Homo sapiens: one gene and its partner. The protein of the gene in region 1 purifies or fractionates together with the protein of each later gene. This does not show direct contact. Each region holds a gene or a part of one and is shown on either strand. Other genes may lie near its edges.

The links. The genes of interacting proteins can lie anywhere in the genome.
Region 2: the proteins of ONECUT1 (region 1) and CDS1 purify together in Homo sapiens (affinity purification with mass spectrometry; one large-scale study listed by BioGRID and IntAct). This does not show direct contact.

What each region holds. Positions count from the first base shown.
Region 1 is NC_000015.10:52,783,837-52,787,336, forward strand, and holds part of ONECUT1 (hepatocyte nuclear factor 6), read right to left. Parts: intron 1-3,500. UniProt on the Homo sapiens protein: Transcriptional activator. Binds the consensus sequence 5'-DHWATTGAYTWWD-3' on a variety of gene promoters such as those of HNF3B and TTR. Important for liver genes transcription.
Region 2 is NC_000004.12:84,586,127-84,589,626, reverse strand, and holds part of CDS1 (phosphatidate cytidylyltransferase 1), read right to left. Parts: intron 1-3,500. UniProt on the Homo sapiens protein: Catalyzes the conversion of phosphatidic acid (PA) to CDP-diacylglycerol (CDP-DAG), an essential intermediate in the synthesis of phosphatidylglycerol, cardiolipin and phosphatidylinositol.

The DNA.
Region 1 (3,500 bases):
GGTGTACTTCGGAAGATGAGAATTTTGTTTTCATGAATTGGGTAACACCCAGGCATTGTTAGGTACCCCGACAGACCCTCTAGATATCCTTCTCTTCCTCCTTCACACTTTCTTCCTATCAAAATAGTTATTGTTTTGAAATTCACTAGAACAACGACGTTCTAAAAACAAAGGCGCAGCAAGCATCCCTTTCTTCGCTGCCGCGGGCTGAACCACGGACGCTCGCGGGTCGCCCAGCCCCGACGGCCCGCAGGGGGCGCGCGCCGCAGCCGCAGCACAGCCCGGCTACCCCCAGAAAGGGAGCCGAATGGAGGGAAGCAGGGAGCGCGGAGGGCTCGAGGCTTGCAGATAAGGAGAGGCGCATCCTGGGATTTGGGTCCTCTGCTGCTACAACACAACCGTGCTATTGTTGGCACTGTCCGACCCAAGTGTCGGTGGTAAGCGGCGATGTCGGGGCTGGGTCTCTAGCAACCGCTGTGCCCTGGGTCAGGCTGGTCGCCCCAGCTACCGGGATCCCTCTCCGGATGCTTCCAGGGCGATAGGTGCTGCACCCATTGACGGGATAGCCGCATACCTCCGAACAGGTAGTGGAGTTCGTCTCTGGCAGGCATCCTAGCTGCGCTGACACCAAGGTCGCCACACAATAGCCATCAGCCCCCCTTAAGCCCCAGAAGTAGGTTTCCCCTGCCCCAGCCATAGCGGTTCCAGTCGTCGCCACGAGCCCACTTCTTATCCCCAAGCGCACCTCCCTCTCCTCACCCGGGTTTATGCCCGTTACACAGAGAGAACTACACAGGGGGAACTATGGTCCTACACCCTCGAGGGGACAGACACCGGCCGTGAGACAGGCACCACGCAGAGCCTTCTGGTGACTGTCCGCAGGAGCGAGACCTTTTTTGGTTTTGCAGTCGGCTAGGTGTGTGTGTGTGAGGGTCCCCAGTTGACTACCGGGATGCACTGCCACTTTTCGGCCTGGCGGGCTCTGGGACTCCTTGGTCTCCGTAGGAGGCCATCCTAGGCCTTCGGAGGAGGCGCTCCCAGCTGGCGGCGCCCCTCGCCCCGGGCTCAGAGGCGGACACGGTCGGTCGCGCCCTGCTGGCCCTTTGTTCGCGCCGCAGCGGGCTGGGAGCAGCTGCGCGACACCAGACCCACAGCGCCAAGACGCGAAGCGCGAGGAAACCGCTGCGCTTGACTCCTTCTCCCCCAACTCTTGGACCCAGGAACGCTTCCAGCTCCTGCGTCCCACACGCCCAGTCCTGGCTTCTCTCCCGGCCCAGAAGTCTTCAAGGATTGAAGGGCTCTGCCTAGGGCCCCGCACTCCTGCCTGACTCCCATGGCCCAGAAAAGCAGGGGGACATTTGAAATGTCACCCCGGGATAAATATTAACAAAAAAGCAAATGGACTTGTGCAGGGGCCAGTTATCAATCAACCAGGCCGCAAGGCCACTCAGGGCAAACACAGCCCAGGTTGGGCTGGGCGAGACTTTCTCATGGCCGCCCCCCGACCGAACCCCTCCCCCCTTGGCTCAGGTCCTTCTTAGGTCGTTCTGGGGCAAACACCGGACGGGAAGGGGGCGCCGCCAACTCCCCCGCGGGGTTTGGAGGTTTCCTCGCCTCCAAGTCCCGCAGGGCAGGGTCGGAGTGCCCAACACCCACCCCCGCCCGAACCTCGGGCCTGCGCGCCGCCTTCCCCTGGGTCCGCGGTGCTGCGCTTGCTGTTGGGTGTGTGTCGCTGTCTCTTTCCGAGCCGGCAGCTCCTGCTGTGTGGCCGAAGCCCTCTGGAATCTTTAATTGGAAACTAATCTTGGTCTTGATAGACGCCCACGTCAGAGGCGCGCCACCCACCCACACCCCCCGCCTCATCCCGGAGGAGACGCGGCGAGAACCCTGTCGCTCTGCTCTTTAATGGGGCAGCAGCAAGTAGTACATGGAGGGAACATATATTGATTTTTAAAAGGTAGTTAATTTGGTGGGAATTTCCTCCTGTCGCCCTTCTTCCACCAGCCGCTGTTATTTCGTGACCGGAAGGCGCCTCCCCAAACACAGCGCCACGTGCAAGAGGGTTTTGACCCTCTGCAACAGGCTGCCGGCAACTGGAGGACAGAGGGGCGTGGAGAAGCCACCACTCTCCCGCTGCGGAGCGAAGGAACCGAGCTCAGTGAGCCCTGACCTCGCAAGGTGGTTGGAACGAGACTGGGGAGGGTCTCTGAGCGCAACAGCAAGGAAAGCTGCCAGGGGCACCTCCCCATATGGGAGCTGGTAGTGGGGGGCAGGCACTAATGTCCCGTAGGAACGGCCAAGGCGCTCTGCAATCCATTTTAAGGCTCATGCACTTGGCCCGTTAGAGATCATTTGGAAAGTTCAGAAAATAACCCCACTCTTTTTAAAATATGAAAATGTTAATGAGATGGCTCCTTCTTCAGTAACTTAAAAATAGGTTGTGAAGAGACTGTTCCTGGTTCCTTGCAGGAGACCCTCCTGGACCAACACAGAATCCTCAGTCCTAGCCCTTTCCACCATCCCTTTTAAGTTAAGGAAACAAAAATGTAATAGACATGCTTCCTCAGGGTCTCAGGACACAGAGTCGGCTTGGTGTTTGGTGCCAAATGCCTGCCCTGCTGGACTCTCCAGTGTTTCACTTTTTCGAGGAAAAGGCCATGGGCCTAGGGCCGAGGGCTGCATGGACCTCTACAGGTTGCTGGGTGCCCAGGCAGGCGCTCCTTCGATAGCCTCCTGGGTGCCACAAGCACCTGCCAGGCACCATGTTTGCGCCTCCAGCGTGCGGGTCCCAGCACTCAGGCTCCCTCCCCCTCCACAGTGCCGTCCCCTGAGCTCGGCTATGTAGCTCTCCACGCTTGGAGGTCAGAGGGCGCTCCTGCGGCCAGGTTTCCATGGCTCAGAGGTCGTCTCTGAACAGAACGTGTCAGTCTGTCCTTCCAGGGGGCGACAGCAGGCAGTGGGGGGAGGAGGGATATTGAAGTCCAGAGCAAGAGCCTCCAGGGGGCGGGGGTGGGGGATGGGGACCGAGTTTTCCCGGAGGGGTAGCCTTCTCCATTTCTATCTTCTTCCCACATTCCCCCGCTCCACTCTTTGGCTTCAGCGGGCACTGCCTGGGTAAGAGGCCCTGAAGCCTGGCTCTGGGGTGGTGTGGGTGTGTGAAAAGGCACTACCTTGGGCTCTGGAGAGACGGAGCAGTCAGGACGAGGAGCAGCCCCTTCGCCCACTCCCTCCGGAACCTCAGTTGCTCGCGGGCAGCCCACGGGTGGAGATATGGTGCCGGTAGCACAAGAGCTAGAGAGTGGAAAACCGGGGGCCAGCGATTCGCTGGGGCGCCCAGCGAGCCTCTTCTCCCCTGACTGGTTCCCGGGCGCAGGCTGCAGGAACCTGCATGAGGACTTTGCCTGGGGCGAACGAAGGCAGAGCTGGGCTGGAAAACCTGGCAGGGCAGAGTCTCAGCCAGCGCGGTGCTTTGGGACCGGTGGCCTGCAGCGCCCAAACCC
Region 2 (3,500 bases), on another chromosome or scaffold:
TAAATGAAATGAATATGCTGTGCATGATAAAAGCTGAATCATGGAAAATTATTTAGGTGGTAATACTGACTGATAATTTATCAACAATTAGGGAGTATCAGCCCAAATGGTAGTCCAGAAATCTAGATCTAAACATTAGTATTTTATTAATGGCCTAGATCTAGATGAAAAACTATAGAAAATGTTCATTACACTTACAGGTGACATCAGCACAACCTGTAGTGAAGTGTACCAAAATGAAGAAGTAATTTACAAAAACACAATAAGGCTTTTACAATAACAAAATAAACTAGACTAAATGCAGTGTTGAATCTCGGATTGTATCCCAGGGCAGTAAATGGATAGTGGAACAACCAGTGAATTTCTGAATAGTATCTACAGTCTAAAATGATATTATAGCTATGTTAATTTCTTAAGTTTTGACCGATGTACCACGGTTATGCAAGATACAAACCTTACGGGAAAGTCGGTGAAAAGTACATAGAAATCTTTGTAATGCTTCTGTAAATAAAACCAACCACCTTTACAAAAACTGTAACAGTGAGAAAATCATAACAGTGAAAAAAAATCTGACCTAACCAACTCTATCTTGCCTTTAACCTTCAAGCTGCCCATGGTCATTCCCAAGTGAGAACCAAGCTAACTTTGGAAGAATTTAGTTTACAGGTTAAATGATAACAGCTCTTCCCTAAACTAAACTGCCTTTATAAAACTAATAAAAGGTCACAAGTTTAGGATTATGAGAGGGGACTGAATTTTGTTGTGATTACATGTAAACAATTACCAGCCACTGGTCTGGAGATCACAAGATTTGCAACTTCTCCAATTACTTCTACACATAATATCACTATTAAAGAAGCTAAGATTGGCCTTTTAAAAGATAGACCACTTTCAGATTTTTATATTTCTGATGACTGGATAACTCCTCCCAAACCAGCAACTCCTGTGGCCCCCCCATCCAGAAATGGACTCAGCATACAAGGACCATTTTCCATACCCCTGCAATTGCCTCCCCAACCAATCAGCAGCACCCATTCTCTAACCCCCTGCACACCAAACTATCTTTTAAAAAGTCTAGCCTCCAAATTTTTAGGGAGGTTAATGTGAGTAATAATAAAACCCTGGCCGCCTGTTTAGCCGGCTCTGTGTGCATTAAACTCTTTTTCTCTATTGCAATTCTCCCGTGTTGATAAACCAGTTCTATCTGGGCAGCAAGAAAGAAGAACCTGTGGGGTGGTTACATAAATCAAAGTTGTTCCAAAATTAAAAGTTTATTTGAAAATAATAATGTATTTATGAAAGAAGCTGCACACATCTCAAATGGAGGAGAGACGTTAACTGATCTCTGGATTGTTTTCTCCTCAACTTCACAAACCAAAATCCCTAAGTAGCAGCCCCATGCACAAACACACAGGGATCTTACCTGAAAGCACACTATTCCACGTGTGCTCCCCTTGACTGGCCACAGCCTCAATGTGCACCCTCTTTTCTCCCACTTCAGGGTCTAGCAAGTGAAGGAAATCAGAATATTTCACCCCAAATTATACTTCTTTGACATATTTTGAGATGGCTGTTCAGAGGGCCTGCAAACAAACAGCCCTGCAAAGCTGTCTTTTGTGAGGTAGATTTGTGTCTGTAGAGAAAATCTGCATTGATGCAACCTGGCCTTCTCTGAAGGTTCTCTCTTGTCTGGATCTAGGAAAGACTAACTGAGAGTCTGACACTTTTAAAGGTCTGAAAGAAATATTCACCATCTATTCTCTCTGAGGGCTCCTCCCTATGAGGTTTCATCTACATGACAGGACCACCTTTGCCTCAAGATGGTATATAAGCTTCTGAGCCTCTTGGGGTTCAGGTAATCACTCTGTCTCCCTCCTCCCACCCCACACGTTAATAAACTTGTATGCCATTTCTCCGATTAATCTACCTGTTGTCAGTTTTTTCTGGCAAGTCTTCAGAGGGCAGAGGGGAAGTTCTCCCTTGGTCTCTACATAAGTCATGTCTTAGCTCTTTCTGTTTCAATACTCATTCCCACTCAACCCATTAGATCTTCACCAGCCCACTTCCCTGCCGACCTGAATCTGTGGTCATCCACTTCAATCTTGGCTTCACTGACTCTCTAATTCCCTACATCCTGGACCTCTGGCACTCCCCAGGCCTAAATCACTCCCATTGCTTTTCTTATTCTCAGCTATTAAATGGGGATATTCCTAACACACAGTCACACAACACTGAACGTGACTGGAACACATCTGAACTGTCATTTTTGGGAAGTGTGATAGGAAATGACCAAAAGGTAACTATTATAAAACTATACAGAATTATTAAACTCAGTGAAGATTCAACTGAATACAAATTTATTGTTTAAAATTTAATTGTATATATACCAAATTATATATAAATATATACAAATACAAATATATATGAATTGAGTTAAACCAAGTTGTTTCTAAGATCCCTTGAAGCTCATTGGTTCTGAGTTCCTACTTTACTAACTGAAGGCATCCAACATTTGATCTTCTCCTTTCTGCTTTTCAAAATGTTCCTGTATCCACTCTTCATTCCGTCTTTCTTTTCTTAAGGAAAAGACATGCATCCCTCTTTTCTTTCCTTGGATATCCCAATAATCCATAGTCTCTACCCCATGTTTGCTTTCTTTTTCCTAGGGCCTACCCATTGTCTTCAACATCTTTACTCATTTGACTTTCATACAAATATATATCTCCCCTCCTCTGAAAAGAAAAATCTTCATTAATCCTCCTGTCTCTCTAGTTGCCATCCTGTATTCCTTTCACTGCCACTTTATAACAATAACTACCAACATTTCACCTCTCAATTTCCTCAACCTAAACTTGCTTCTACTTAGATCTTTTGCTAAACTCCACGTTCTATCTCAGCCCTTATTCCTAAGTACTACTGATGATGTCCTCTAAGCCAGGGGTCCCCAACCCCCAGGCCACAGACCAGTACCGGCCTGTTAGGAACTGGGCCTGTTGGGAACCCGGCTGCAGAGCAGGTGAGTGGTCTGCGAGTGAAGCTTCCTCTGTATTTACAGCCACACCCCATCACTCGCATTACCACCGAGCGCTGCCTCCTGTCAGATCAACAGCAGCATTAGATCCTCACAGGAGCTTGAACCCTGTTGTGAACTGCACATGCGAGGGATCTAGGCTGCATGTTCCTTATGAGAATCTAAGGCCTGATGATCTGTCACTGTCTCCCATCACCCCCAGGTGGGACTGTATAGTTGCAGGATAACAAGCTCAGGGCTCCCATGGATTTTATATTATGGTGAGTTGTATAATTATTTCATTATATATTACAATGTAATAATAATAGAAATAAAGTGCACAATAAATGTAATGTACCTGAATCATCCTGAAACCATCCCCCCAACCCATCCGTGGAAAAAAGTGTCTTCCACAAAACTGATCCCTGGTGCCAAAAAATTTGGGGACCACTGCTCTAAGCAATGCCTCCTCCTTTTGCTCTCAGGACCT